7 linked regions of the Homo sapiens genome follow. The protein of the gene in region 1 purifies or fractionates together with the protein of each later gene. This does not show direct contact. Each region holds a gene or a part of one and is shown in the gene's direction. Other genes may lie near its edges. The genes, in order: ALDH3B2, PNKD, NUBPL, SLC38A10, TIMM17A, NFXL1 and COX16.

Region 1 (3,500 bases):
GAAGCAAAGAACCCTCCGAGTCCCTCGTTTAGTCCCAGAAGGGAGGGAGGCCCAGGGGAGAGCTCTGTTCCATCTGAGTGGTCTGGGTGTAGGGGTGGCAAGGTGCCAGCGTGGGTGGGTGTGTGTCTGCGCAAGGAGGGGAGGTGCAGGGAAGAGCTGGGATGGTGGGCAGCAGGGTCACCCGAGGTGTGTGTGTTGGGCTTCCAGGGTGGGCGTCCAGGAGGGGGATCCCCTCCCTGGAGTAGGGGAGGTCAAGCCCAGGGCCCTCCCTCATGGGCACACCTGGGAGGCAGGTGAGTTGGGGGTGGTGCAGGCAGCCCCAGCCCCGTGGGGTCATTCGAGTGGGTCTGTGTGTGTATGAGGTGGGGTGTCTGTGAGCCCCCATGGGTGCAGGTGGGGCAAGGGTGTGCAGACCCTGGGGTGGCTGGAGGGTGCCCGTGAAGGAGGGGCAGCCCTGGCCACCCAGTTCAAGCCACCCCATCCGGCAGGATGGACCCCTTCGAGGACACGCTGCGGCGGCTGCGTGAGGCCTTCAACTGAGGGCGCACGCGGCCGGCCGAGTTCCGGGCTGCGCAGCTCCAGGGCCTGGGCCACTTCCTTCAAGAAAACAAGCAGCTTCTGCGCGACGTGCTGGCCCAGGACCTGCATAAGGTGGGCCGTGGAGAGTGGGCCCCGGCAGGGGCTGGAGCAGCGTCCCTGTCCTCTTTCAGGAGGGCCCGTGCCCCCTAGTGACTGGCTATGTCCCTAGTTTTATTCCTGTTTGTTTAACAGACCCCCTCCCTGGCATGTGGAGTGTGGCAGGCACCTGACCTTCACTCCTGAACACTCACAGCCACCCTGTGATGCAGGCTCCATGGCTGTCCCCATGTTGCAGATGAGGAAACTGAGGCACTCAGGGGTTAACATCGCTTGCCCAAGGCCACACAGCCAGGAAGTCACAGATCAGAATTGCAGCCATGCGCAGTTCCCAGGGGACGGCAGTGCCTCCCATAGGAGCTGTATTTATATGTCCAGTGGTGGTGGTGCCTGCGTGTGCCCTCCTCAAATTCTAGACCCCTCCTGGCCCAGGTCTGGGCCTGACCACTCTGAATTCCACCTCCACCACAGCCAGCTTTCGAGGCAGACATATCTGAGCTCATCCTTTGCCAGAACGAGGTTGACTACGCTCTCAAGAACCTGCAGGCCTGGATGAAGGATGAACCACGGTCCACGAACCTGGTGAGCCCTGCTGGCAGGCGGCAGGAGGGCAGGGCAGGGCACCGGGTAGCTCTGGCCCAGGCCCCCTTCTGCCCCTGAGGCCCCGGGCGAGTCACTGATTTTCTCGTCTCTCCTGGGATTCCATCGCACAGGGAGCTGAGGCCCCAAGTGTGCAGTGGGTGGGCTTTGGGGTGGCCCTTGGCAGGGCCTCACTGTCTACCCTGTGCCTCAGTTCATGAAGCTGGACTCGGTCTTCATCTGGAAGGAACCCTTTGGCCTGGTCCTCATCATCGCACCCTGGAACTACCCACTGAACCTGACCCTGGTGCTCCTGGTGGGCGCCCTCGCCGCAGGTGAGGAGGGCGTTCCGAACCCCATGCTCTCCCCGCCCAGTAGCCCCTCCCAAAGAGGCCCCTGGAATCTTGCTCTGAGGTACCCTGGGCCTCACATGCCCTCTGAGCCCAGCCCCTGGTTGGGCATGGGGACCCTGGGCTCCCCCAACGACGTCCCCATCTGCCCCTGCAGGGAGTTGCGTGGTGCTGAAGCCGTCAGAAATCAGCCAGGGCACAGAGAAGGTCCTGGCTGAGGTGCTGCCCCAGTACCTGGACCAGGTGAGGGTGGCCCTGCCCCAGCAGTGCCCGACGTCCCCATATATCACCCCTGTGGGCTGAGGAGGCCCGGCTGGCCCCGAGCCCGCCCCGAGCCTCTCATTCCACCTTGCAGAGCTGCTTTGCCGTGGTGCTGGGCGGACCCCAGGAGACAGGGCAGCTGCTAGAGCACAAGTTGGACTACATCTTCTTCACAGGTGAGGGGGCCAGGCCAGGGTCCCAGAGTAGGTGGAGGGGATCATCAGGAGAGAGGGTGGGAGGGTTGTGGAGGGAGGAGGCTGGGGCCAGCAGTGGGGGCACGTGGGGAGCTGGAGCTGGCACAGAGTCCGTCTGCCTGCATAGGCCACGCCCTGGGCACATTGCAGCAACTGGATCCAGGAGTGGCCAGGCTGGAGGCAGGTCCCAGTGGGTGAGCCAGACCGGCCAGGAGAAGGGTGAGGCGGGCCAGGACTTTCTATGAAGAAAGCGGGCAAGAGTCAGGTGCCTGGAGTGTGTGGTCAAGGCCAGTTGAGGATGGGGTCTCCTCACCATGTCCCTAGGAAGCCCGCCGACTCCAACACCTCTCCAGGGAGGAGCAGGCTCTGGGCTGGGCCATCCTGCCTGGTCCAGGTCACTGACTGGCCACTCTGGTTTCCTTCCACGCCCAGGGAGCCCTCGTGTGGGCAAGATTGTCATGACTGCTGCCACCAAGCACCTGACGCCTGTCACCCTGGAGCTGGGGGGCAAGAACCCCTGCTACGTGGACGACAACTGCGACCCCCAGACCGTGGCCAACCGCGTGGCCTGGTTCTGCTACTTCAATGCCGGCCAGACCTGCGTGGCCCCTGACTACGTCCTGTGCAGCCCCGAGATGCAGGAGAGGCTGCTGCCCGCCCTGCAGAGCACCATCACCCGTTTCTATGGCGACGACCCCCAGAGCTCCCCAAACCTGGGCCACATCATCAACCAGAAACAGTTCCAGCGGCTGCGGGCATTGCTGGGCTGCAGCCGCGTGGCCATTGGGGGCCAGAGCAACGAGAGCGATCGCTACATCGGTGAGTCCTGCTGCCCTACCGCAGCCCACCTGGGCCAAGACCCTTTCTCAATGGAGGGCCCACGGCTGGGCCACGAGTCTGGACTCGCACCTGAAACCCGGCCCCACTATCAGAGCCCGGCCTTGAGCCATGGCTCTGGTGCCACGATTCCGTCTCTGTGCTTCTGAGCCTGTGGCCCCATGAGGCCATACTCTGGTCCCTCAGCCCTGGATTCACTGAGCTCAGATTCCAGGGCTCCAGGGCCCAGCGTGCTAAGGTGAATTCCCATCCCACCACCGGCTGTCCTGAAAGGCCGTAACCTCTGATTCTCCGAGCCCATGATCCCCAGGTTCTAAACTCTGACGGCCCCATCCTGAGCCCCCAGTCTCCTGGGCCGTATGACTCAGCAGCTCATGGGACACTGCAGCTCCAACATTCTGGGACGCTGCTGCCTCATGAACTCCAAGGTTCTAAGATCCCATCACCCCTGACTGTGAGACCAAGGTCGGGGGATTCTCTGCGCCCCACAGGCCCTGAGCAGGCTGGGGAAGCCCTAGGGTCCCTTCTGGGGGGCTGTGGGGAAACTTTCTTCCCTAAACACTCCAAAGCCTGAAGCGCTGGGAAGTCAGACCTTGGGATCCTGGCCTGGAGCCCTGGCCCATGCCCCTGTCCCCACCTCTAC
Region 2 (3,500 bases), on another chromosome or scaffold:
CTGTCCCCAGGAGTGAAGGTGCTTCCCATCCCTGTCCTCTCGGACAACTACAGCTACCTCATCATCGACACCCAGGCCCAGCTGGCTGTGGCTGTGGACCCTTCAGACCCTCGGGCTGTGCAGGTGAGGGGAGGGCAGGGAGCAGGGGGTGCCTGGAGTCACCTTGGGGACTGGCAGTTTCGCCTTGCTAGAGAGGGCTGACCCTTGTCCGTCTGCCCGTGGGATGTGTCCCATATGCTCCATGTTCACACGTGCACATGCGCACACATAGCCTGGGGAAGGGGGGTACAGGGCATGGCTGGGCAGAAGGGGAGAGCAGGAGTGGGGGATGCAGAGCCAGAGGGCTGGGGGTGTTGGCCCAGGACTCTGGGTCTAGTGAGTTTCCAGGCTGGCTTTCACTCCCATTGGCCCCCTTCAGACCCCCTTTCTTTCTGTCACCTCTGTCTGTCAGTATCTGGGTCTCTCTGTCTTTCCCTCCCATTCCTTATCTCTCTGTGTCTGCCTCTCTCTATGTACAAGTGTCCCTCTGCCTCCATGTGCCCCGTGCTTCACATTCCTGGATCTCTCCCCTCCAGCTCCATCCCTTTCCTCTGCTTCATCTCTCCATGCTCTCCTCTCCTCTCCACCAGCGCCCACACTCCTGGCTCTTGCTGCTTCAAGTGCCTCTTGCATCCTGCTCCCCAGTCTCCAAACCTCCTCTCTCTCGCAGGCTTCCATTGAAAAGGAAGGGGTCACCTTGGTCGCCATTCTGTGTACTCACAAGCACTGGTAAGGGGCTCCCGTCTTCCCTGGCCCACCCTTGTCCCAGCTGGGCTTGCCAGGACTGGGCCCATTGAGGACGGCCGGGGCCAGAGATCAAGAAGTCAGTACGGGCCGGCACCCGCCTTCCTCGTGAAGTCACCTGGACACCAGCAGGGAGGGAGGAGAGGGGACAGTCTCCCACCACTCCATTGATCAAGCTTCTGAAGCCCCAGAGGGCAGGGCAGTCATTTCTCTTTCATTTCATGGGCATGTATTAGATACCTACTGCACACTGGGCATGGACAAAAGTTATGACTCTTCCATCAAGGAAATTCTAAGACCAATAGGGGAGGTAGCCCTGTATCAAAGTATATAACAGCGGAGGCAAGAGGGTTGGGAGTTCAAGCCCAACCTGGGCAACATAGTGAGACCTTGTCTTCAAAAAAGAAGTATGTGATATTTAGGTAACAGTTGGCACAGGGAACAGGGATGGGAGGCCCAGGCACGGTGTGATCAGATCCACTTGGAGAATTGAAAGATGATGACCTGAGCTGAGGGTTCAGGAAGCTCGGCTGGCATTGGCCAGCTTGAGTTGTTGGGGGCGATGTTCTGGGCAAGGGAACAGCTTGAACAAAGGCCTAGAGGTGTGGACAACTTGGCTTAGTCCAGAAGCCACAGCCCCAGCACTTAAAGGCCTGGAGATGCTGTGGTAAAGAAGGGGGCTTAGGTACAGTTGCCCCTCGAAGCCCCCTGCCTGTCTCTGCTGTCCTGCAGGGACCACAGTGGAGGGAACCGTGACCTCAGCCGGCGGCACCGGGACTGTCGGGTGTACGGGAGCCCTCAGGACGGCATCCCCTACCTCACCCAGTAAGTCCCTGACCTAGGCAAGGGATGGCCCTTCCATGGGCCCTTTCCCCCACCCCCAGCCTTCAGTGAAGTGTTTCAGGGGTATCAGCAGGTGGATCTTTGCCAGTGCCCTTCCTGGCCCAATCCCAGCCTATCTGAAGACTGGCACTGCCCATCCCCCAACTGATCCAGCCATAGTCCCCAAAAGAGGAAAGGGGGAGGGTTCGGACCTGAGACCCGAGGCACTGGGGTGACTTCTTTTGTATGGAAGCCCACTCTCTTGTGAATCACCCAGCCCCTTGGGCCTGGGATGGGGACAGGGATCAGCATGGCACAGATCCAATACCTTCTGTCCCCTGCTCCCTTGTTCCCCAGTCCCCTGTGTCATCAAGATGTGGTCAGCGTGGGACGGCTTCAGATCCGGGCCCTGGCTACACCTGGCCACACACAAGGCCATCTGGTCTACCTACTGGATGGGGAGCCCTACAAGGGTCCCTCCTGCCTCTTCTCAGGGGACCTGCTCTTCCTCTCTGGCTGTGGTGAGTTTCCCCGAAAGAGAGAGGAGCTGGGAGAGGAGGGAGAGACAGAAGCCAGGGCAGCCACAGTCCCATGGAGAGCACTGAAGCCTTAGTTTTAGCACAGATGTTGCCGTGGCAGTTACTTCCATCTGTGTTACTCAGATTGGTTTTAATCCTTGAGACTTCCCTTGGGGCACCTTGGGAGGCTGAGGCAGGAGGATCACTTGAGGCTAGGAGTTGGAGACCAGACTGGGCAAAATAGCAAGACTGTCTCTACAAAAAAATTTTAAAATAGGCCAGGCGTGGTGGCTCATGCCTGTAATCCCAGCACTTTGGGAGGCTGAGGTGGGAGGATCACCTGAGGTCAGGAGTTCAAGACCAGCCTGGTCAACATGGTGAAACCCCGTCTCTACTAAAAATACAGAAATTAGCCGGGCATGGTGGTGCATGCCTGTAATCCCAGCTACTAGGGAGGCTGAGACAGGAGAACTGCTTGAACCCGAGAGGTAGAGGTTGCAGCGAGCTGAGATCGCGCCACTGCACTCCAACCTGGAAGACAGAGTGAGACTCTGTCACAAAACAGAAAAAAAAATTTAAATAATATAAATAATATAGGCCAGGAGCAGTGACTCAGGCCTGTAATCCCAGAACTCTGGGAGGCCAAAGCAAGTGGATTGCTTGAGCCCAGGAGTTCAAGACCAGCTTGGGCAACATGGTGAAACCCCGTCTCTACAAAAAATACAAAAATTAGCCAGTGTGGTGGTGAGCCCAGGAATTCAAGGTTGCAGTGAGCTATGATTGTGCCACTGCACTGCAGCCTGGGCAACAATGAGACTCTGTCTCAAAAATAAAAAAGACTTCTGCCAGCTGCGGGACAGAATGGGAGAATGTCTGTAGCTGAGTAAAGCCCTGCAGGGAATTAGTTTCCCCTGGGTGGAGACTGGTTCTCTGATACAGTGACTGGCAGGACTAGGTTATGAAAAGTTAAGAACAGCTAGGTGAGTGGGTGGGTGAGGATCACAAGTCCCAGGCTGCATGAAATCCCAAAGGGCAGCCTAGGCGAAGAAGTGTTCCGTGGGAAAGAGCAGCCCTGCGTCTACCAAGCCTGGGGCCTGCAGCCCGAAGATTCCACAGCCCCTCCCTTCAGGTGTCACTGTGTGCAACGGAGGCCTCGGATGGGCTTGGTCAGGGGGTGACCAGTTGGGCCCAGTTCCCAGTGAGGAGGGAATAGATGCCTGGGGTGGGTCTGGAAAGTGCACAGTCAGGGCTGACGGCCAGCCAGAGCATTACAAGCTGGTTCCCACCTGTCTGGGTGTGCCTTATGCCATATTGTGTTATCCTGGCACCTTGTGACATACCCTCCAACCCCCACCCAGGGCGGACCTTTGAGGGCAA
Region 3 (3,500 bases), on another chromosome or scaffold:
TCCTCCAGGCTTATTTATGTTTGTGAAAATGACAGAATTTCCTTCCTTTTCTTTGCTTTTTTTTTTTTAAACTTTTATTTTATGTTTGTGAGTACATATGAAGGTTTGTTACTTAGCTAAACACATGTCACAGGGGTTTGTTGTACATATTTCATTTCCCAGATATTAAACCTAGTACTCAATAGTTATATTTTTTCCTCTCTTCCTCCTCCGATTTTCCCGTCAAGTAGACCCCACTGTCTGTTGTTTCCTTCTTTGTGTCCCTAAGTTCTTATCATTTAGTTCCCACTTGTAAGTGAGAACACGTGGTATTTGGGTTTCTGTTCCTGCATTAGTTTGCTAAGGATAATGGCCTCCAGCTCTATCCATCTTCCTGCAAAAGACATGATCTTGGTTTTTTTTTTTGTTTTTTTTTTTTTACGGCTGCCTAGTATTCCATGGTGTATATGTACCACATTTTCTTTAACCAGTCTGTCATTGATGGGTATTTAAGTTGATTTAATGTCTTTGGTATTGTGAATAGTGCTGCAGTGAACATTTGTGTGCATGTGTCTTTATGGTACAATGATTTATATTCCTCTGGGTATATGCCCAGTAATGGGATTGCTGGGTTGCATGGTAATTCTGTGTTTAGCTCTTTGAGGAATTGCCATATGCTTTCCAGAATGGTTGAGCTAATTTACACCTCCATCACCAGTGTGTAGGTGTTGCCTTTTCCCCGTAACATTGCCAACATCTGTTATTTTTTGATATTTTAATAATAGCCATTCTGACTGGTGTGAGTTGGTATCTCATTGTGGTCTTTATTTGCATTTCTCTCATGATCAGTGATATTGATCTTTTTTTCATATGTGTTTTGGCTGCATGTATGTCTTCTTTTGAGAAGTGTCTTTTCATGTCCTTTGCCCACTTTTAATGGGGTTGTTTTTCTCTTCTAAATTTAACTTCCTTATAGAGGCTTGATATCGGACCTTTGTCAGATGTATGGTTTACACATATTTTCTACCATTTTATAGGTTGTCTGTTTACTCTGTTGATAGTTCCTTTTGCTGTGCAGAATCTCTTAAGTTTAATTAGATCCCACTTGTCAATTTTTGCTTTTGTTGTGATTGCTTTTGCTTTCTTTGTCATGAAATCTTTGCCCATTCCTATGTCCAGGATGGTAATACCTAGGTTGTCTTCCAGGATTTTTATAGTTTTGGCTTTTACATTTAAGTCTTTAATCCATCTTGAGTTGATTTTTGTATATGGTGTAAGAAAGGGGTCCAGCTTCAATTTCTACTTATGACTAGCCAGTTATCCCAGCACCATTTATGGAATAGAGAATCCTTTCCCCATTGCTTGTTTTTGTCAGCTTTATTGAAGATCAGATGGTTGTAGTTGTGTGGCCTTATTTCTGGGCTCTTTATTCTGTTCCATTGGTCCATGTGCCTGTTTTTGTACCAGTACCATGCTGTTTTGGTTACGGTAGCCCTGTAGTGTAGTTTGAAGTTGGGTACCATGATTCCTCCAGCTTTGTTTTTCTTGCTTTGGATTACCTTGGCTGTTTGGGCTATTTTTTGGTTGCTTATGAATTTTAAAATAGTTTTTTCTAGTTCTGTGAAGAATGTCATTGGTAGATTGATAGGAATAGCATTGAATCTGTAAATTGCCTTGGGGAGTATAGCCATTTTAATGTTATTGATTCTTCCTATCCATGTGCATGGGATGTTTCTCCATTTATTTGTCTCATCTCTGTGTTCTTTGAGCAGTGTTTTGTAATTCTCATTGTAGAGATTTTTCACCTCCCTAGTTAGTTAGATTTCATTCTTTTTAATGGATGAATAGTATTCTATTGTGTCTATATACCAAATTTTCTTTATACGTTCATCTAATGTTGGACATTTAGGTTGATTTCATATCTTGACTATTGCGAATAGTGCTGCAGTAAACATAGGAGTGCAGATATCTCTTTGACATACTGATATCACATTAAGCAAATATTAGCAGACCAAATTCAGCATTCTATAAAACAACTGCATTATAATTAAATTGGGTTTAATCCAGGAAAGCAAGTTTGTTTCCAAATTAGGAAAAATCTCTTAGTGTAACTCACCGTTTTAGCAGATCAAAGGTGAAAAAGCATGTGATAGTTCAGATTCTTTAATCTGTATTCATATGGTAATTGAAGAAAATGGCCAAAAATATTGCCAACCGTGATAGCGAAAGGTTATAATTGGATGCTTTGGAAAGAATTGAGAAAATCACATAGAAGAAAAATAGTGCTTTCAAATTAGGTATGGGGAGATTGAGCTAGTTAGTTTAGCCAGAAATTAAAGAAGGAAACTATAAACATACACTCATTGAGTATTCCTTTAATGAAGGACCACGGCTTTTTCTTTGAGTAGGGATTCAATGAATGGAATATGGCAGAGGATTTCTTATATAATCCATGCATATATGCTTTACACAGTTTTCAGTCTCAGTCTCTTGACAAGAGGGGAAAAACCCTGAAGAACATATCTTGAAATCTGAAAACAGGATACTCCTAGGTTTTATGACTTTGTCCTAGACTTTTTGCCCAATACTTGTCCAAATCATATTTGTTATGGTAGAGAAGTAGGATATGAAAGCAAGAGTGAGTGGGAAGGTGATTGCATAGATAGTTTGATAAAACAAATTATATTTTATTGTAATCATTTGTTGACTATATAAAGGATTTTTTTACTTCACTATAAGCAATAGATTGCTTTTCTCTACAGATTAATGCAATTTTTCATCTCAGATTTCAAAATTGAGTTTTTCTACTTTTGTGGATTTTTATACTTTTTAAGCTAAGTAAAGGAACAAATAAGTAGTAACACTCCAGTGTAGGAAGGACTGATTAGATATGTGTGTGTGTGTGTGTGTGTGTGTGTGTGTGTGCATGCAAATATACACATACATGTATGCACATATTAGATTAGCATATATATAATTTATATGTTTATGTATCTTTGTATATGAATAAAATTGGACAAAATTAGTTATTGAGGCTATTTTTTAGAAACATTTTAAAATTGTAGTTGAGTTGTTTTATTGAGGTTATTTATTTTTTTTGAGACAGAGTCTTGTTCTGTCACCCAGCTGGAGTGCAGTGGCACAATGTGGGCTCACTGCAACGTCTGCCTCCCAGGTCCAAGCGATTCTTTCATGTTAGCCTCCTGAATAGCTGGGACTATAGGCGTGCACCACCATGCCCAGCTAATTTTTGTATTTTTAGTAGAGACAGCATTTTACCATGTTGGCCAGGCTGGTCTAGAACTCCTGACCTCAAGTAATCCACCCACCTTGGCCTCCCACTGTGCCTGGTATTGAGGCTGTTTTTTAGAAACATATTTAAAATTGTATTTGAAGTATTTCTTAATACAATTATGTCCCAACTATTTATCAATGTTGTGTCTATTGGAAATAGTATGCTTGGTATAATGTTTAAACTGTTGCAAATTGAGTTATATTTAGTTGAAAGTTAAATTGCACAA
Region 4 (3,500 bases), on another chromosome or scaffold:
TGATGATGGTGATGGTGGTAGGGATGGAGATGGTGATGATGGTGACGGTGATGATGATGGTGATGGTGGTAGGGATGGAGATGGTGATGATGGTGATGGTGATGGTGATGATGGTGATGTTGGTGGTAGGGATGGAGATGATGGTGATGATGGTGATGTTGATGGTGGTAGGGATGGAGATGATGGTGATGATAGCGGTGATGGTGGTGGTGGTGGTGGAGGTGACGGTGATGACGGTGATGATGGAGGTGATGGTAATGGAGGGGACTGTGGGAGAGTGGGTCGGTGGGCTCGTGCCGCCATCTGGTGGTAATGACTGAGTATTACATGGAGTCTAGTTCTCCCTGCCCCCAGTTAGGTGTAAATCGCATTTTGACATATTTTTGTTGTGAATACACATGAAAAATGACAGTTTTCTGTGCTACTTAGCTGCTAATGATCGAACAGGAAAAAGAAACTGCTTTGACTCTGCCATTTGGCTGGAAAATATGGTAACAGTCCAGGGAGAGCTGCCCCGCTCCTGGAGCTGCTTGGCAGTGCAGTTCCCTAACTGTGCCCTGCTCCCAGCCCAGGATCCGGTTGTGGCCGTGGCTGAGGATGGCCGGGAGAAGCCGAAGCTGCCGAAGGAGAGAGAGGAGCTGGAGCAGGCCCAGATCAAGGGGCCCGTGGATGTGCCTGGACGGGAAGATGGCAAGGAGGCACCGGAGGAGGCACAGCTCGATCGCCCTGGGCAAGGTGCTGGGCACTGGCTGGGGGTGCGGATGGGGAAGGGCGGCCCCGGGTCCTCCTTTGCAGGCTGGACACCCTGCGGGGTGGCTCTCAGGGCTGTGTGTATCTTTTTCCCTTCAGCCCAGCCTAAGTTCTGGTCCTTTTTGTTTTCTCTGTCTTTCAATTCAGATGAATGTCCTGCCCCTCCCAGAGCAACTTGTTTGCAGCTGCCCCTGTTGAACTTTAGCATCAGCTGTGCTTGGCCAGGCAGCAGGGAGGCCGGCAGGGGAGGTGGTATCTGTTGGCCTGTGTCACACTGTTGGGAGCCAGAACCCAGGGAAGAACCCAGTTCTAATTCCCTGGGAAGGGAAGGAGGGGCCTCAGCCTGACCCCATCTGTCCCCCGTGCCCTTGCAGGGATTGCTGTGCCTGTGGGCGAGGCCCACCGCCACGAGCCTCCTGTTCCTCACGACAAGGTGGTGGTAGATGAAGGCCAAGACCGAGAGGTGCCAGAAGAGAACAAACCTCCATCCAGACACGCGGGCGGAAAGGCTCCAGGGGTCCAGGGCCAGATGGCGCCGCCTCTGCCCGACTCAGAAAGAGAGAAACAAGAGCCGGAGCAGGGAGAGGTTGGGAAGAGGCCTGGACAGGCCCAGGCCTTGGAGGAGGCGGGTGATCTTCCTGAAGATCCCCAGAAAGTTCCAGAAGCAGATGGTCAGCCAGCTGTCCAGCCTGCAAAGGAGGACCTGGGGCCAGGAGACAGGGGCCTGCATCCTCGGCCCCAGGCAGTGCTGTCTGAGCAGCAGAACGGCCTGGCGGTGGGTGGAGGGGAAAAGGCCAAGGGGGGACCGCCGCCAGGCAACGCCGCCGGGGACACAGGGCAGCCCGCAGAGGACAGCGACCACGGTGGGTGTCAGCCTGGGCTCGTGTCGGAAGACACTCCCCTCTTGGGCTGGGGAGGCTGGGCAGGGGCAGCAGAATCGATGGTTCCTCCCTCAGTCCCCAGTCTCTCTCCCTGCACCAGATTAGCATGCAAATGGAGCGGGCCCCGGCAGCTGGTGGGGACAGGAAGAGGCTGGTGGCTGACAGCTACTGTAATATCTGTCACACAGTTGTTTGCCAGACCACTAAATGTCAGGTGCCGCGCTGTGCTCGTGTGTCTGGGCGCACACGGGGGGCGGCGCGGGGGGCGCCTGACAGGTAACACGTTGTTAAGTGCCCGTCTAAGAGCTGCTTAGGACAGTTCTTGCATTTTAATTGCGAAGGCAGTTACCATTGGCTCATTGCCACAAGCCTATGAGGTTGTTAAATATTTTTTTATTGCTTCGCTAGTAATCATCAGGTTGAATATAAACTGTGCTGACGGGGGTGTCACTTTAGAAACATCTGCCACTTCCTTTTGTCCCGCCCTTGCCTTCTGTCCCCCAACCCCCCAAACCCTCCCTTGACTTTCCTGCAAAACCTTCTGAGTCTTCACCGTGTGTGCAGGTGGGAAGCCTCCCCTCCCAGCGGAGAAGCCGGCTCCAGGGCCTGGGCTGCCGCCCGAGCCTCGCGAGCAGAGGGACGTGGAGCGAGCGGGTGGAAACCAGGCGGCCAGCCAGCTGGAGGGTAAGGCCTCCGCCCTACAGCCGCCTGCCTCAGGCCCAGGGAGCGGCAGCCCCCTCCCCCAGCCCTGGGGTGATGCCCAGGTCATCCTCGGGAGCCCTGCCAGGCCCCCCTTCTCTTTCCAGCCGCCTGCTGAGCAGACCCCTCGGAGAGCTTTCTGCTCCCTTCCCATCAGCAGCTTGCTTTCTGGGAACCTTTTATCTGCCTTACTCCCCTTTAAACACCTGCGGCATCGTCACATGGCTTGTGATTACCGTTTTATCTCCCTTGCTCCCCTTTAAAACACCTGCGGCATTGTCACTTGGCTTGTGATTACCATTTCGTCTTTAAAGCAGGTTTGTTAACAGTTTTAACACTCGGAGTATTTAAAGCCAGCCAGGTGTGGGCGTGCCTGCACCCAGATGTGGAGGTTTATTTTAAGGCTGTGCCCCAAGGGGACCCAGTTTGGGGGTGGCTGTGCCCGCCCTGGTCCTAGCATAGCCCTGGCCCAGAGCACTGCTCCCACACCCTCGGGCCTCGGAGCTCGGCTGTGTTCATCTACAGGGATCTGTCACCTGTCCCTCCAGGAAAGCTCCTTACGCCTTTGCTCTCCTGAGAATAAAACTTGCTCTGAATCCTCCTCCAAACTTCTCGCCCCTTGGGTCTCAGCTGTTGGCTTTTTGCGACCCCTCCTTGTGGCCTCATGCAGTTGGGTAGCAGCAGCCCCGTCTGTGAGCCTGCTGGGGACAGGCTTCTGTGCCATGTCCTCTCCCAGGCTAGGGGTCCACCCGCCCTCTGAGGGTGTGTGGCTGGGCCCCCGCTCACCAAAAGTCACGTGCATTTGGTGGCAGTGTCCAAGCCTTCTCTCAAGATGGTCAACCCTGCCCCATGCGGGGTCCACGTGTGCCTCAGCATTGAGAGGGTCTGTTCCAGGGATCTGTGTGGGGGTCGCAGGGCACAGCCGCTCCAGCCTCCTGTGCCAAGCCCCTGGGAGCAGGTGTGGGAGCTCCGGGCCAGCCCTGGCACGGGCACCTCCCAGGATGTTCGTAAGACACACGCTTCCTGCCCGCGCATCTTGCCCTGTGGCCTCAGGACAGCCGGTCCGAGGGAGGGCAGGTGCAGCAGCCACGTCCCAGTCGCTGCGGCCTGGCTTCTCCAGGTGCAGCTCGCCCTCCTTGCACCTGCAGCGCGGAAGGCAGAGCCAAAAGG
Region 5 (3,500 bases), on another chromosome or scaffold:
GGCTCTGGATCCTCACACCAGGCTACCCTTTATGGATCTCCTCCTCATCCTGCTTAGACTCAAATTCTCCATTCTCATTAGTAGCCAACACTTATTCTGGCAATGATTCTCAGGGGAAGGGTCTCCTGAGATTTTAGGCTCATGAGGAAATGGGAGGGTCTTGTCAGAAAATTTTAGTGAGGTAATTCTAATATACCTAGACGTCATAGCTCTCTCCCAGGGCATAGAATTACTGAGTTAGAAGAAATAACTGGTTTGTTTTTACATAGGATGTGATGTCTAATATTGTACTAAAAATGAGGATGCTTATGCTATACTCCACTGGTACTATCCACTGGATTTATTTATTTTTTTTATTTTTTGAGACGGAGTCTCGCTCTGTCGCCCAGGCTGGAGCACAGTGGTGCAAACTTGGCTCACTGCAAGCTCTGCCTCCTGGGTTCACACCATTCTCCTGCCTCGGCCTCCAGAGTAGCTGGGACTACAGGTGCCCGCCATCACACCTGGCTAATTTTTTTTGTATTTTTTAGTAGAGACGGGGGTTTCACCGTGTTGGCCAGGATGCCCTCGATCTTCTGACCTCATGATCCACCCGCCTCGGCCTCCCAAAATGCTGGGATTGTAGGCGTGAGCTACCGCACCTGGCTGTTTTTGTATTTAGATAGAGTTTAAGTGCAAAGTAATCTGCTGATTTAAGGTTGTTTTAAATTCATATCTGAGGAATAAAGGATGGACAGGCAATTTCCATCCCTTTGATGTTCCATAGTTCTAGCTATTTATATCATTCATTTGCCCCTTCAGCATGGATTGGCTTACACCTGTAATACGTTCCAGAATAGCTGGATTTCTTTTGTTTTCCCATCGGTGATTTTCATAGAGTAGATGCTCAATGACATATAATGCAGAAAGGCCAAAAATAGAGGTAAGTAAAGCTATGAAAGAAAAGAAGAACGAAAGAGGAAGCAGAGTAGTTTGATTTTGTTTATTGCTGCTTAAACCAGAGAGATATGTTATTCTGGAAGGGTGATTTGCTTGTTTTTACACATATGCAGCCTGACTGTTTTAGGCTTGGCTTCTTTTTTGTTTGTTTGAGATGGAGTGTCGCTCTTGTTGCCCAGGCTGGAGTGCAGTGGCACGATCTCGGCTCACTGCAACCTCCGCCTCCTGGGTTCAAGCGATTCTCCTGCCTCAGCCTCCCCAGTAGCTGGGATTACAGGTGCTCGCCACCACACCCGGCTAATTTTTACATTTTTAGTAGAGGCGGAGTTTCGCCATGTTAGCCAGGCTGGTCTTGAACTCCTGGCCTCAGGTGATCCACCCACTTCAGCCTCCCAAAGTGCTGGGATTACAGGTGTGAGCTATGGCACCCGGCTGGCTTATTTCTTATAGGCTTTGGGCCGTTGCTAATTTTCCAGCTGATATAATACAATCCAGCTTTATTCGAAAGATAAGTATTCTAACTCTTGTTCGGTGTTTATTCAAACTTGTGTTTGCATGTATTTGTTTGGACTATAAATTTTGAGACTATAGTGAGTATGTTTTTGACTATAATATTTTAAATGGAAGATGAAATTTAAATTAGTATTTGCTTGTTTCTTTTTACAATAAAATAGGTAGCTTTGCAGTTTGGGGAGGGCTGTTTTCCATGATTGACTGTAGTATGGTTCAAGTCAGAGGAAAGGAAGATCCCTGGAACTCCATCACAAGTGGTGCCTTAACGGGAGCCATACTGGCAGCAAGAAGTAAGTAGTCATTACAGACATACTAGTAGAAGCCACACTTTTAGGAAAACCTCATCTGCCTCAATTGAATGACATCTGTAATATATAAAACTGATTATTGACCAGGCACATTGGCTCATGACTATAATTCCATCACTTGGGAGGCTGAGGCAGGTAGATTGCACAAGTCCAGGAGCTTGAGATCAGATATAGGGAGACCTGGTCTCTACAAAAAAAAAAATTTAATTAGCTGGGTGTGTTGGTGCATGCCTATAGTCCCAGCTACTCATGAGGCCGAGGCAGGAGGATCACTTGAGCCACCGCACTCTCACCTGGGCAACAGAGTGAGACCCTGCTTCAAAAAAAATAATAATTATAAAACTGAGCATTGTTTAATTTGGCATAGCATAAATATACAGTATATGGTGATTTGAAAAAAAAGTAAGGGGATCTATTTATTTGGAATATTTGAGAATGAAAGAGCATGGAATTCTAACCCATATATTACAGTGGTTGAGAGCACTTCAGGTCCCAGTTCTGCCATTAATTAGCTGTATGACTGGTCAGTTTACCAAACTTTTTATGCTATAATTTCTTCACCAGTAATCTGGAGTTAATTAATAATTACACCTGCCATATAGAGTTGTTATGAATAAGGAACTTAGAACCATCTTCTGGATCCTCAGGACAGAGAATTCCTTTGAGCTTAGTGGTTTAGACCAAGGGATTTGCAAACTATTTCTGTAAAAGGCCAGATAGTGAATATTTTAGGCTTTGTGGGCTGTGTGGTCTTTGTCATAGCTACCTAAATCTGCTGTCATAGCATGAAAGCAGCCATGGATAATACATAAACGAAACAGTATGGCTGTGTTTCAGTAAAACTTTATTTATTTATTTATTTTATTTTATTTCTTTTTTTTTTTTTTTTTTTTTTTTTTTTTTTGAGACTGAGTCTCACTCTGTCGCCCGAGCTGGAATGCAGTGGCGCAATCTCGGCTCACTGCAAGCTCTGCCTCCCGGGTTCAAGCGATTCTCCTGCCTCAGCCTCCCGAGTAGCTGGGACTACAGGTGTGTGCCACCACGCCTGGCTAATTTTTTGTATTTTTAGTGGAGACGGGGTTTTACCATGTTAGCCAGGATGGTCTCGATCTCCTGACCTCGTAATCCACCCACCTCGGCCTCCCAAAGTGTTGGGATTACGGGCGTGAGCCACTGCGCCCGGCCCTATTTATTTATTTATTTTCTTGAGACGGAGTCTTACTCTGTCACCCAGGCTGGAGTGCAGTGGCACAATCTCGGCTCACTGCAACCTCTGCTTCCTGGGTTCAAGCAATTCTCCTGCCTCAGCCTCCTGAGAAGCTGGGACTACAGGTGCCCGCCACCACGTCAAGCTAATTTTTGTATTTTTAGTAGAGACGGGGTTTCCCCATGTTGGCCAGGCTGGTCTCGAACTCCTGACCTCATGATCTGCCTGCCTCAGCCTCCCAAAGTGCTGGGATTTATGGCCTTTCAGTAAAACTTTATTTACAAAAATAGGCAGTGGGTGGACTGTGGGTGGCTGTAGTTTACTGACTCTGGGTCTTAGGCAATAAGAAAGAGTTTGGGAGTTGGGGGAGCATGTCACCATATGGACAGTTCTCTTCTTTACTATCTCTTACAGTAAACTAGATTTCTGTAAAAAATAATCTCTTTGTTATTAATGTCTTCAGATGGACCAGTGGCCATGGTTGGGTCAGCCGCAATGGGTGGCATTCTCCTAGCTTTAATTGAAGGAGCTGG
Region 6 (3,500 bases), on another chromosome or scaffold:
ACCCATAACAAAAGAGCGTAAAAAGCTGAAACCAAAATAACATTTTTTTTTATGTTTAGAAGAGAAATATTTGGGATTATATCCTAAAATGGTGGCTTAGTACTTAGTCTTTCACAAAGCACAATTAATGGAAAATTGACTGTGCTTGCTACTAACCAATATCAGGTCATGAGAAAGAAGTTATTGGGAATTCATCTAAAAATTGTGTACTTGGATAGATGTATGAAAGTAGGCCAACGATATTATTGTTAATGTTAAATTTTCCAAAGACTTAAATCCATTTTTGCTTGTTTTAGTTTTGAATGAGTAATGTGTTAAATTTGTTATTTAGAACAGAAGTTTTAGCACATTTTAGAGAAATGTCTAAAACTTTATGAGGTACCAGTGTACAGAGAAAAAAGTGTTATAAATCAGAGGCTGGGTGCAGTGGCTCACGCCTGTACACCCAGCATTTGGGAAGCTGAGGTGGGAAGATTGCTTGAGTCCAGGAGTTTGAGACCAGCCTGGATGACATAGTGAGACCCCTCCATCTCTATAAATAATCAAAAATTAGCTGGGCATGGTGGTGTGTGTCTGTAGTCCCAGCTACTTGGAAGGCTGACGTGGGAGGATTGCTTGAGCCCAGAAAGTTGAGGCTGCACTGAGCTGTGATCATGCAACAGCACTCAGCTTGAGCAACAGGTTGAGACCCTGTTACAAAAAAAAAAAGAGAAAAGTATTACAAATAAAAAGTATACAGCTTGTTGAATTTTTACAAACTGAACATAGCCAGGTAACCAAAACTTACATCATTAAACAGAACATGACCAAAATTTTCAACACCTTCCTTGCATCCTTCATAGCTATCACTCTGATTTTGAACAGTACATTTTTTCTTGTTTACTTTATATAAATGGAATCATGCACTATGTACTCCTTGTGTCTGGCTCAATGTTTTGTGGTAAGATTCATTCATGTTGTTGTAGTTTCTTCATTCTTGTTGTAGAGTATCCCATTGTGTGAATATACTAAATTTATGTATTTTACCATTAATAGGCATTTGGGTAGTTAAGGAAACTTTTTAATTGTCAGACTTTTTTTTCAGGCAGTTGCTATCCCTGCCCAGAAACCGTAGATGTGAAGTGTAATTGTGGCAATACAAAGGTGACAGTGCCCTGTGGCCGAGAACGTACCACAAGACCACCCAAGTGCAAGGAGCAATGCAGGTGAGTTTGAAGCTTTGCACAAGCTTCCATCTGATGTTGTACAAATTTAAATTCATATTGGCTTTTAATAATTTAATTTTGCTTTAGTGTTTTAAAATATTAATATTCACAGTATACTCATTCTATATGGAATCAGAAGATATGTAAATAGATAATTGTCCTTTAGATGTAATTATTCAATGACTAAAAGTAATTTTTGAAAATTGTACTTTATGATTTAGTCGACCACCAACTTGTCATCATACAAGTCAAGAAAAACATCGCTGTCACTTTGGTTCTTGTCCACCATGTCATCAACCTTGCCAAAAAGTTTTGGAGAAATGTGGTCACTTGTGTCCTGCTCCGTGTCATGATCAAGCATTAATAAAGCAGACTGGCAGGGTAAGGGAATAATACTATTAGAGAAATAGTGCATTGCTGTGGGTTGTACTTTCTTGCTTTTACTTAGTTTTTCAATGAGCAATGATTAAGCACTTATTGGGAAGCACTGTGCTTGGAGCAGGGTACAAGGTAATCAAGACTTGATTTTGTTTTAAGCAACTCACAGTGTAGGAAAGGAGTGAAACCATTGTTTGCAAATACAGTGTGATAGTTACATTATGATCATGATACAGGTGAATTTGGCAGTCCTCCTTCATATATTGTGGTTTAGGGTTATAGATATCTCCTATAATCTTATTTTAAAGATTTATTCACTTTTTAATATTTTATTTAATATTTATTTATTTTTAGTTATTTAATTTTTTTTTTTTTTGAGACGGAGTCTCACTCTGTTGCCCAGGCTGGAGTGCAGTGGTGTGATCTGGGTCACTGCAACCTCCACCTCCCGGGTTCAGTGACTCTCGTGCCTTAGCCTCCTGAGTAGCTGGGATTATAGGTGCCTGCTACCATGCCCAGCTAATTTTTGTAGTTTTAGTAGAGATGGGGTTTCAGCTTGTTGATCAGGCTGGTCTCGAACTCCTGACCTCAAGTGATCTGCCCGCCTCCGCCTCCCAAAGTGCTGGGATTACAGGTGTGAGGCACCACGTCCAGCCCAGCCTCATGAACATTTATTGAGCCCTTACTAAATATCAAGCTTTTTTTTAGGTGCTGAGGAACAACAGTGAGTAAAATGATGGAGATTATATTCAATTGCTAGATGTTGGAGTTTCCAATTGTTTTTCTCATTTCCTTATTGGAAGTAAAGGAGGCTACACTGCCTTTGTTCTACCATTTATAAACTGGATTCTGTCTCAGTTATTAATATCAAATGTCTGTGGAGAGGAACAATTTCATTTAATACAGATAAAATGAAATATTTCAGTAAGCACAATTTATTGATTATTTGAAAAAATTTCAACCTGCTTGAGCAGAGGATACATGGAACTATTTTCTTAGATTCTTAAAATGGCCATATGATTTAATCCCTCTGACTTAAAATTCTTATGTATTTTATTTGTAGCACCAGCCTACAGGCCCTTGGGAACAGCCTTCTGAGCCAGCATTTATTCAGACTGCATTACCGTGTCCTCCATGTCAAGTTCCTATTCCTATGTAAGTATTAGAATTTCAATTAAAAAAAAAAAACAAAAAACTTTTGACATAGCTTAAAGGGTATCTGAAGTCAATCTCCCTTTTTTCTTAGTTCAGTTCATTATTATTTCAGGCCTAGCCTATCAACTAGTGTGTCTGTCTTAACCTTCATTCTTTTCAAACATGTTTGTCATACTTGCATATAAACCTACTATAGATATCTTTTTTTGAGTCTTTACCCCCAGTTGGAGTTTGATGCCCTTCTTAGCTTTCCATAGCGAGTGCATGCAATTACAAAAACAAATCCAAGGAACATCATTTGTTACTTTTCCCGATGATTCCCATACTGGATTGTAAGCTCCCTGAAGACAGAAGAAAGCCAGGTTTTAGATAAGGCAAACTTGGGGAATATTTAAAGGAAGCCTTGGAAATGAGAGGAAGTAGTTTCCTGGATGGGCCAGTGAATGACTGGGACTGAGCTCTAAGGAGCTGAACCTACAGTAATACGGAATCCTGGAATTTTTTATACTTCCAGCAGAGGTTATGGAGTATAGGGGAAAAAGCACAGAATGCTGAGAAGCAACATAAAGTTAGAAAAGGGGCTGTTGTCTACAACTGAGGTGCCAAATTAAACATTGGTATTTCTGGTGTATTGGTCTTTTAAAGAGAGGATTGTTTTTGTTTTTTAATTCTAAAAGCTTTCATTTCCACAACATTCCTCCCAGTTGAAATAGCATGTATATTTTTGTGTATTGGTCACACAGTCAAGTTGGGAGGCAAAGT
Region 7 (3,500 bases), on another chromosome or scaffold:
CAGAGCCTTATGAGGGCAAAAGGGAGATTTTTTTTGTCCACAACTGCTGGGTTTTTAGAGCCAGCTTGGTGAGTTGGGCTTTAAGGACAGAGTTCATTTTTTCAACTTTGCCTGAAGATTGAGGCCTGTAGGGTGTGTGGAGAACCTACTTTATTCTTAAGGACGTAGAGACGCCTTGGATAATTTGGCTGATTAAGGTGGGCCTGTATCGGACTGGATGGATGTTGGGAGGCCGAAATGGGGAATTATATGCATGATGAGAGTTTGTGTGACATTTGCACCTTCTGAAGTTGTTGGGAACACTTCTGCTTACCTGGAGAAGGTACAGACCAAGACTAGAAGATAGCGGAGCTGTTTATTGGGCGGCATGTGAGTGAAGTTTACTTGCCAATCGTGCCTGGGTATCTGGCCCCGGGCTTGGTGGGTAGGAAAAGGCGGTGGCCGGAGGGAGCCCTGGGGTGACACTGAGTGGCAGATAGAGCAGGACTGGGTAATATCTTGAACATAGCTGGAAAGGTGAGGACAAGTGAGAACAGGGCGGAGAAGTTGCAAGAGAATTTGTAACCAACATGGAAAGTGTTGGGGAGGCTTTGGAGATGAGGAAGGCTTTGAGAGTGAGGAAGAATGAAGTGCCTTTCCTTGACATACCATGGTCCTTGCTTTTGAAGGTTTTGGGCTCAGAAGTCCTCCTTTTCTTCTGAGGAGTAAAGAGGAGAGAACAAGGACAGGGACAGAAACTGGCCTTGCATGGGTTGCAGGGCTACTTGTTTGGCTACCTGATCTGCTAGCGCATTTCCAGCCGATATAGGATTGTCCCGGGTTTGGTGGCCCCTGCAATGAATGAAGGCAGCTTTCTGCGGGAGTCTGGCAGCTTGAAGGAGCTTGCTGGTAAGAGAGCCATTTATGACAGGAGTGTTTTTTGCAGTTAAAAAACCTTGTTCTTTCCACATAGACGAGTGTGAGTGTACTATATGGAACGCATAATGAGAATCTGAATATATGTTAATTTGTTGTCTGGTTACTAGAGTGAGATCTTGAGTGAGAGCAGTGCATTCAGCTTTTTGGGAGGTGGTGCCTGGGGGAGCGGATTGGCTTCAGTAGTGTGTGTGAGGGGGTGACACTATATCATAGCCAGCATGCCGGCATCCTTGACATAGGAAGGAGCTGCCATCTACAAACCAAGTAAAGGAGGCATCTGGAAGGGGTTGGGCTGTTAGGTTTGGAAAAGGTGTAAGAAAGGTTTGAACAGTGTTCACACAGAAGTGTGTAGGGTATTGGGCGGTTGTAGCTTCAGGAAAGAGCATGGCAGGGTTTACATGAGAGCTGGTTAGCACGGTGATTTGGGGGGTTTCTATGAACAGAGCATACAGTTGGAGGAGCCGTGGGGCAGAGATGAGACTTAGTACACTGTGGTGAGCTAGCATGTCTTTGATATTATGGGTTGAATAAACTGTTAGGTTGGCATGGAGAGATAGTTTTAGGCTTTCAAGGATGAAGACAGCAGCTGCCTCCAGTGCTTGGAGGCAGGCAGACCATCTGAGAACTGTGGCTTCAAGCTGTTTGGAGAGGTAGGCGATAACCTGGAGGGTGGGTCTCTTAGACTGGGTTAGAACACCTAGTGCAACTCTACACGTTCGTTGGTATAGAGGGAGAAAGGTTTGGTGAGGTCTGGGAGAGTGAGGATGGGGGCTGAGATGAGAGTCTTCTGGAGTAGATGGAAAGGTTGGGTAATAGGCTATGCAGGGTTTGAAGGCTCATGGAGAGGGCCTTTAGTGTCTTGGTATAATGGTTTGGCAAGTAGAGCAAAGGAGGGAACCCAGAGCCTAACATATCCCACTAGTCCTAGGAAAGAGAATTTCTTGCTTAGTTTGCAGAGGTGGGAGAGACTGGAGGAGGGATATGTGGTCGGTTGTGAGCCCTCGGGTTCATGGGGTAAGAGCCAGGCCTAGATAAGTGACTAAGGGGGCTCATATTTGTGCTTTCTTAGGGGAGACCCGATACCTCCGTTCTGCCAAGAAGTTTAAAAGAGAGAGATAGCATGGGCGTTGCAGTCTCTTTGAGAGGGGCTACACAGGAGCAGATCATTAACACATTGAAGGAGAGTGGACGGTTTTAGGGATAAGGTACAGAGGTCATGAGCAAGGGCCTGTCCAAAAAGATGGGGGCTGTCTCTGAAACCTTGAGGTAGTACGCACCAGGTGAGCTGATGTGAAAGGTGGGTGTCGGGGTTTTCCCATGTAAAGGCAAAGAGGTTTTGGGAATCAGGGTGTAAAGGAATTGTGGAAAAAAGCATCCTTTAGGTATAGAACAGGAAAATGGGTGGTATTGGAGGGAATTGCAGAAAGTAAAGTATATGGGTTAGGAACTACTGGACATACTGGGAGTACAGCTTGGTTAATGAGCCTGAGGTCCTGGACTAAGTGATAAGTTCCATCTGGCTTTTAAACAGGTAGAACTGGTGTGTTAAAAGGAGAGTTTCTTGGGTGGAGTAGGTGACTGGTGAGGCGGCGAGAAATGATAGGCTTTAGGCCTATGAGAGCTGCTTGGGGGATGGGATACTGCTTCTGTGATAGGAACTGGGTGGACTCTTTAAGGGTAATGCGGACGGGGGTGTGGTGTTTTGCGACTGAAGGTGTGGAAATATTCTAAACAGCGGGGTTAACTACGGATGGGGGATAAGGTAAAGTTGCATGTTTTAAGGTGGCAGGTTGGAGGAGTAGAAGAAAGTTAGATGCCCCGAGGGGTCTGGGTTGATGCGTTGGGTACTATGGGGAATGTGCAAGTGGAGAGTAGTGTGGAGTTTTGAAAGGATGTCTCTGGTATGAGGGCAGGACTAAGAAAGGGTGACTGAAGGAAAAGGTGTGCAGGGAGCAGAAAAGTGGAGGGGTGGCTCAGGGTTTGGAGTCTTGTCTGTCAATTCCCACAACGGAGAAAAGGGAGGACTGGGTGTGTCCTGAAAAATTAGGTAAAGCAGAGTAGTTTGCCCGGTATTAATTAAAAAAAAAATACTGGCCTACCTGCCACCATCAGGGTTACCCTTGGCTCGGATGAAGCGATGGTAGTTGCCGGGGCATCCATTCCAGGGCACCATCAATCTTCAGCGGCAAGGCCAATGAGATCCAAGTAGGAGGTTTTGGCCGGCTTAGGAAGTGATGGGGCCGCCCTTGCAGGGGCCGCTCACAGTCCAATTTCCATTGGGGTCCTCTGCAGAGGGGGCATGGCCTGGTGGGCTTACCTGGATTTGGGCATTGTCTGGACCAGTGGCCTTCATTGCCGCACTTGAAAAGGTGCCAAGTGGAGGTAGGTTGCTAGGAGGCTTCCGTGTGGAGCTGCGGACCCGTGGGCCTGCAGGGCCCCTGATGGCGGAGGCAAGCATTTGAAACTCCGCCTGTTTTTGCCTTTTACTTTCCCTATCACGATTGTTAAAGACTATGAAGGCTAAATTAAGACGGTCTTGTGAGGTTTGAGGGCCATCATCAAGCTTCTGAAGCTTGCACCGA

The links.
Region 2: the proteins of ALDH3B2 (region 1) and PNKD purify together in Homo sapiens (affinity purification with mass spectrometry; one large-scale study listed by BioGRID and IntAct). This does not show direct contact.
Region 3: the proteins of ALDH3B2 (region 1) and NUBPL purify together in Homo sapiens (affinity purification with mass spectrometry; one large-scale study listed by BioGRID and IntAct). This does not show direct contact.
Region 4: the proteins of ALDH3B2 (region 1) and SLC38A10 purify together in Homo sapiens (affinity purification with mass spectrometry; one large-scale study listed by BioGRID and IntAct). This does not show direct contact.
Region 5: the proteins of ALDH3B2 (region 1) and TIMM17A purify together in Homo sapiens (affinity purification with mass spectrometry; one large-scale study listed by BioGRID and IntAct). This does not show direct contact.
Region 6: the proteins of ALDH3B2 (region 1) and NFXL1 purify together in Homo sapiens (affinity purification with mass spectrometry; one large-scale study listed by BioGRID and IntAct). This does not show direct contact.
Region 7: the proteins of ALDH3B2 (region 1) and COX16 purify together in Homo sapiens (affinity purification with mass spectrometry, with the first as the bait; one large-scale study listed by BioGRID). This does not show direct contact.

Annotation. Positions count from the first base shown.
Region 1 is NC_000011.10:67,664,624-67,668,123, reverse strand, and holds part of ALDH3B2 (aldehyde dehydrogenase family 3 member B2), read left to right. Parts: intron 1-488; 5' UTR 489-651; intron 652-1,107; 5' UTR 1,108-1,188; coding exon 1,189-1,218; intron 1,219-1,429; coding exon 1,430-1,550; intron 1,551-1,722; coding exon 1,723-1,808; intron 1,809-1,920; coding exon 1,921-2,002; intron 2,003-2,452; coding exon 2,453-2,839; intron 2,840-3,500. UniProt on the Homo sapiens protein: Oxidizes medium and long chain fatty aldehydes in lipid droplets into non-toxic fatty acids.
Region 2 is NC_000002.12:218,340,019-218,343,518, forward strand, and holds part of PNKD (probable thioesterase PNKD isoform 1 precursor), read left to right. Parts: intron 1-10; coding exon 11-123; intron 124-709; coding exon 710-768; intron 769-1,515; coding exon 1,516-1,608; intron 1,609-1,892; exon of another isoform or gene 1,893-1,962; coding exon 1,963-2,126; intron 2,127-3,481; coding exon 3,482-3,500. UniProt on the Homo sapiens protein: Probable thioesterase that may play a role in cellular detoxification processes; it likely acts on a yet-unknown alpha-hydroxythioester substrate.
Region 3 is NC_000014.9:31,669,404-31,672,903, forward strand, and holds part of NUBPL (iron-sulfur cluster transfer protein NUBPL isoform 1 precursor), read left to right. Parts: intron 1-3,500.
Region 4 is NC_000017.11:81,250,308-81,253,807, reverse strand, and holds part of SLC38A10 (solute carrier family 38 member 10), read left to right. Parts: intron 1-567; coding exon 568-735; intron 736-1,124; coding exon 1,125-1,613; intron 1,614-2,195; coding exon 2,196-2,315; coding exon of another isoform or gene 2,316-2,593; exon of another isoform or gene 2,594-2,938; intron 2,939-3,500. UniProt on the Homo sapiens protein: Facilitates bidirectional transport of amino acids. May act as a glutamate sensor that regulates glutamate-glutamine cycle and mTOR signaling in the brain. The transport mechanism remains to be elucidated.
Region 5 is NC_000001.11:201,962,003-201,965,502, forward strand, and holds part of TIMM17A (mitochondrial import inner membrane translocase subunit Tim17-A), read left to right. Parts: intron 1-1,613; coding exon 1,614-1,742; intron 1,743-3,430; coding exon 3,431-3,500. UniProt on the Homo sapiens protein: Essential component of the TIM23 complex, a complex that mediates the translocation of transit peptide-containing proteins across the mitochondrial inner membrane.
Region 6 is NC_000004.12:47,883,584-47,887,083, reverse strand, and holds part of NFXL1 (NF-X1-type zinc finger protein NFXL1), read left to right. Parts: intron 1-1,084; coding exon 1,085-1,205; intron 1,206-1,426; coding exon 1,427-1,586; intron 1,587-2,646; coding exon 2,647-2,738; intron 2,739-3,500.
Region 7 is NC_000014.9:70,346,184-70,349,683, reverse strand, and holds part of COX16 (cytochrome c oxidase assembly protein COX16 homolog, mitochondrial isoform 1 precursor), read left to right. Parts: exon of another isoform or gene 1-3,356; intron 3,357-3,500.